Linked DNA regions of Homo sapiens: region 2 is linked to region 1. Evidence: fine-mapped expression QTL. A gene starts in region 1. The other region holds a variant in brackets. All regions are shown on one strand. Distances are from middle to middle. Region 1 holds the start of TENM2 (teneurin transmembrane protein 2). Region 2 overlaps TENM2 (teneurin transmembrane protein 2).

The links. PIP is the estimated chance that this variant, and not a neighbour inherited with it, causes the effect.
Region 2: its variant is fine-mapped to the expression of TENM2 in liver (GTEx, PIP above 0.99).

What each region holds. Positions count from the first base shown.
Region 1 is chr5:166,977,600-166,980,513 of GRCh38, forward strand. TENM2 (teneurin transmembrane protein 2) reads left to right here and starts at 1,430. Exons shown (of 31, transcript NM_001395460.1): 1 at 1,430-1,924. RefSeq lists enhancers at 487-988, 989-1,488.
Region 2 is chr5:167,377,286-167,380,199 of GRCh38, forward strand. The region is part of intron 4 of TENM2 (teneurin transmembrane protein 2); the gene reads left to right. Among named protein-coding and RNA genes, the nearest start is that of TENM2-AS2, 75 kb to the left of the region's middle. The variant A/C (reference allele first, on the strand shown) is at 1,739.

The sequences.
Region 1 (2,914 bases):
GGGCCTGTCCCTTGAGGGAAGTGACACCACATCTCAGTCTCAGCCTCCTCATATGTAGAAGGGGGGTAGGATAGTTTCTTTACAGAGTTCCTTTAAAGATTAAGATGGCACCTAATTAAAGGATGAACAAGAGTATGTAATCAAGAGATAAGTATTATTAATATTAGTACTATGAAGACATTGGCAAATTTCAGGCATGCAGTTTTTCAAGGTTTGTAGGTTATTGAAGACAACAAGCCAGGTACAGCTTGAAGGCCAGAGGATGTTATCACCCAAACACCCACCAGGCCTTTACCTTGCTGTACTTGCCTAGCGTTCATCCACACTCCTCATCCTGTCTCCAGTGACTGAGGGCCAGACTGCAGGGTTTAGATTCTTGATGTATTGGGTATGATATACTAGCAGTTGGTAACATTCTGGGGCCTCGGTTTCCTCCTAGGGTGGATCATACAGTGTCTGAACAGGTTAAAATCAGATAATTCATAGGCAACACATTCCACAGAGCCTGCACAGAGCTGAACAAGCAATACTTGTTCAGCTGTTACTATTAAAACCACCAGGCCCTGCTGGATTTTCTGTTAATTACCCTGTAAACTGAAACAGCCTTTCCTGGGCTAAGAATTGTTTCTTTTCAAAGATTCCCTATATGAAAAAAAGAGAAGTAACTCCTCTCTGACGTCTGGAAATCTAGCTTCCCCATCACTACGTCCTTGGGTGCAGGTTCAGAGCCACCGGGCAGCCTAGATGAGGCAGGTGAGCAGCGGCTGAAGACTCTGGAACCTTTGCTTCTCTCTGGAAGCTGCAGAGCTCGGCTCTGCCCTGCTCTGCGTTCCTAACCCTGGAAGAAGCGGTCTGGGTGCAGCCAAGCACTGGACATGCTCGCGAGAGCCAGGGCAGGCTCGGGTCGTCCGCAGGACTCGAAGGCTTGCTGTGCTCTCCTGTTTGCAGAGACCTGGGTGTAGCTGTGGTGCATAGATGTGGTGCATCGGGTGCCGAGCGGATCCCTCGGTGCGTGCAGCTAGGGATCCAAGCCTCCTCAGGCTAACCCTAGAGCCGAACTGAACTCTGAGCCGCCCGGGGTTCGCGCGCTCAGTTCCTGGTCTTGGAAACGCCCAGCTGGGGTTCTCTCTGCAGACAAAGGGGTGCACGTGTCCCTAGCGCCCCTCTTTCTCAGCCGTGAGCCCCTCCCTGGCTGCGTACCCCGCAGCCACAGCAGCTGCAGCCCCAGCGCCACCACCCAACCCCGGCGGCCTGGGCCGGTGCGCGCTCTCGGGGCCCAGGGATTGGCTCGCACTCCCCATTCAGGGACCGCGAGGGCTAGCGGGCGGCGCACGGCGCTCTGTGTGTGTGTGTGTGTGTGTGTGTGTGTGTGTGTGTTTGTGTGTGCGCGCGCGCGCGTGTGTTGTGCGGCGCGCGGGCGAGCGCGTGTGTGCGCGCGAGAGCTCGCGTGCAGGAGTCACTGGGTGTGCGTGCGTGTGTTATGGGTTTGATTCCAGAGCAGGTTGCACATTGGTCCTGGGTGGCTCGCAGGCTCAGGTCGTGCTTGGGCGTCCTCCTCCTAATCGTTTCCGAAGTAGCAGCAGCAGCACCACCACCAGCAGCAGCAGCAGCAGCAGCAGCAGCAGCAGCAGCAGCAGCCGCCGCGGCAACATCGAGCTCAGCGGCACAGCAGGCAGAACTGTGCAGAAGCGAGCACCGTTTGGGGAGTCCGGGGGGCGGGTAAGAGGGAGGAGGGGGAAAGCCTGTCTTGGTCTTTGGGATTATTTTTTTTCCCCTTCTTTCCCTCTCTCTCTCTTTCTTGAGGGTGTGTGTTGCCCCCTCGAAGTGAAGGAATTTTGCTCCAAAGCGAGCTGGGACCGAAGACTCTAGGCTAAGTTATCTATGTAGATGGTGTCAGGGAGCGAAGCTACTGACCGAGCTGCTGGTAAATGTTTTTCACTTCTTACTCTTTAATGCTTAAGGCTTTTTTCCCCTTTTCTTTCTTTCTTGTTTCCTTTCTGTTGCTCCTCATTCTGCAATCGCTCCTGAATCAGCTGCAGTTCTCTTTCTCTCCTTGCGTTTGTGCAGTTTACAACTTGTTTCATGGTTTTCTATGTATTTTTTTTTCCTCCTTCATCCTCAGATGAATGCTGGAACATTTAAATTCGGCACTTCGGGAGGTCATCATTAGTTGCATGAGTTTCAGGGGGGGAGGGGAAAGATTGCTAGAGCAGACTGTTATTTCCCTGCAGAAGGACTGCCGGTTTCTCTCTAATGTTCATCGCAATTATAGGGATTTTTTTTTAGGATGCATTTTAACGTTGCATTGCTGTTTAAGGTTATCGTTCTCCAGGATTACAATGCATTTGACTCAGTTTTGACAGCATGAGAGATGCCAGTGATTCCAGAACTACTGTATGGTACATGCTGGCTAAAATATTCAAAATTGCAGGAGGAATCATTTGCATTCCAAAAGAGAATTTCTTTAAAAATGCCGTTTTGCATCACATTGCTACAGATTTGCAGGAGGCAATAATAGACACCACTACCCATGTTGCTTGCAAAAGATAATAAACATATAAGTGCTTTAGTGCATCACATACTGTCTTGGGCTCCAGTGATTGAGCTATTGCTAAATTTACTTAATAATAAATTTAGGGCTATGGAGAAAGAGGGAGATTGCTGGTACTGTTTTATTCAAAATTGTGAGACACGTACAGCAATATCTCTCTTAGATCTTACTTGAAGTGGCATCTTGTCAATGGAGGGGAGGGTTCTGCATACACATGGAATAAAATTATTTAAAATAGCCAGCATAATGAATGCAAATTGAACTCTAACTCTTTTCTTAAAAATAGAACTCACTCTGTAACTCTGGCTGCCGGGATCTGTTTTAAATATTATTTAAAAATTAATATACAACAGCTCTTTAATG
Region 2 (2,914 bases), 400 kb after region 1:
TACTGATAAGAAATAAACCCTTGATATAGTGTCCTGATTCTTTCCTACAGTACTAGTTGCAATGCAGTCAGAATTACATGAAGAGAAATGTACTTAGAAGCACTAAGCAACTCTGTATGTGAGTGTGGCTGGCAAGGCACAAAGGAGGTATTGAAGCCAGAGTTCAAACTAGGTGAGAGATGCTTATTTTAAAATATACAGGTAGAATGTCTTTGTTTTTCTTTTTAAAACATTTTTTCAATATTTTACATATTCAAAAGAGGTACATAATGTATCTTCTGTTCTCATTCTTGGCCAGAAATAAAAATAAGAAATTTTACACATCACATCATAAACTCTTTAAGCAAATACAAATTGAAGTGTGAGCAACTCTGCAGGCAGAGGTGTTAACTTCAGTAAACTTCTTGCTCTTTCTCTCTGACAAATTCTGTTTAGCTCACAAAGAAATCAATGCTTTTTCACATCACTGATTTTATGAAGTTTGGGAATGTATTATCATATAGATTGACAGTTGCCCCACTGGTTCCACACCACGGCATGGACACTTACAAAGCCATCATTAATTTCTCACACTTGTACCCAGTGATGGCTTCCTCCATAATAAACACTGTGTCCTTCAGAACCAAATCAATAACCTTTTAGGTATGCCTTTCTTGAAGAGGAAGTAACAGGAATCTATACTTTGAGAAAGAAGCTCTCCAATTTGATTTTAGGTTTTAAAGATACATGGTCAGAAAATGAATCTTTTCTGTGGGGTTCCATATGTTTTAATTTCATTTCTTGGTGGGATTTTGGGATAAATGGATTTTTCACCGTGTTTACTTAAAAATCTCCCTTAAAAAATTCCAGTTGTGATTTTGCTAAGCATAGTTAATGAGTGAAGACAGATCTCAGAAACCAACTTCCTTTTTGGTAATATGAAGTGTATATTCAGTCTGCAAAGTCATATAGTAAAATCTTTAATTTTGCCAACAGTTCTCCCTAGATCAATGTTGATTGTGCTTCCTACATGCTGCTGTGACAAAAATGACCCATTGGATAACTTGACAGTCCCATCAAACAGATGAACCTGTCTTTCTTTTCTTTCTTCTTCTTTTTTTTTTTTTTTTGGTAGTGTAGACACCATAGTGCTTCATCCTACACTCATTGATTTAGCCTCTGCATTAACATTGTGCTGGCTTGGATTGGGTTGCTTCAAATATATAAAACTCTCAGATTCATGTTATCTTTTCAGGTTCTTTAATCCTATCTTGAAGTCAATAATGATTTGGCTAGAAATGGCAATGAGAGTTGAGAACAGCCCGGCCAAGTTTTTGCTGCTGTGAAATTTGAAAGGGCTTTCCTAGTAACTTTAAATTAGAGTCCATACTTTTGTTCAATAATAAATGTCCCACTTAAAATATGTCCTCTCTAAGGCCATTTGTATTATATGAGTTATGGAGAAAAAGGGGTAGTCAGTAATACAGAAGAATAACTAATTGCCTCCTTAAAGATGCAAAGCAGCACAAACTAAAAAATCTTGTCTATGTTCTCTTGACTCCCTTAGGCGATTTCTTCACCTTGGGACTTAAAAATTTCCTTTTTTTTTTTTTTTTCCTTCCAGCAGAATTCTAGTTTCAGTTATTTTATTGGAAATCCAGAAAGGGAAAAAACAAAAAAACAAAAAACAAAGAAAATAAAGTTGGTATGAAATAGGAAGCTAGAAATGGCAGTAAGTGAAATCTGGTGTTGGTTAAAC[A/C]TTTAAGAAAATTATTCTTCCCCTCCCCTCTCCATGTCCACCCAAAGTAAATAAGTACAATGTTCATTTTCATCTGTTGTAATTGGGAAATTTACAATCCTCATAATGTACTTTGAGGTTGAGATATAAATGTTGGGTTAATTCCATTGCATTTCACAAAATGCATTTATAAAACAAGCTGGCTCTGGGCACGTAATGGATTTATGTAAAGCGTATTTGTGAAACACAGATTCTATTAGATTGAGTCCTTTTGGCAAAAGGTCTGTAGCGTATCTGTCTCCTCGGCAGAGTTCCAACACACCCAGGTACTCACTGCTTGTTAACTGAGACATGAGGAATGAAGCCTGAGGGAAGGAAGGATTTTCCTTAGCACCGGGGACAATGTCCTTAGATTGTTACTGCCAACCAAGTTGCATTCATTTGTCATTTAAGGTGAGTTACTTAAATTTTTCTCCTTTCTCTCCAGAAAGCGGCCTCTCAATAAATCTAGCATTGGAGCGTTTCTTAAGTAAACACAAACTAAACATGCGAGTGGAATTCTATTTCTACTCCCACTCTATTACTCTTACATGCTCAAATTAACTTTGTATTTTATAACCCACTCTACTCCTTTCTTCTCCCTAATCCCTCACGTAAAATCACAGAGAATGCCTGGAACAGACATAAAAACTTACTAAGAGCTCCAGACCTAGCCAAAGGCCCATAATTTTGCTGTTAAGGAAGTGAAAAGTCAGTGGTAAGAATAGTGAAAGAGGTAGCTACAAAAAGCATACATTCATATTTGACTGTGCTTGATGTTGATATGGGATGATTTCTTTTCCAGCCACATTTTATGAAGCCAATTTCCATGGAACCTAAAGAAAATTGTCTCAATTTCTTAAAAACAAAACAAAATTTAAAAACATACCAAAAAAAAAAAAAACCCAGAACAAAGTTTTAAGCCATTTGGATGACATTGATTTCAATTTGTGTTTTTAGGCTTTATTTTATATACCTGTACATTTAAAAGAATACCATTATAAAGAAGAGTATGAAATGAGTTATCATGGATTTAAAAAAACGAAGGACACAGACACAAAATATCATAGGTTCTGTGTTTTCCATTCCTAAATGAAAGAATGATCTCCTTTACATTTTTCTAATTCAATTCCCTCAAAGTCCAGGTATTGGAAGCTA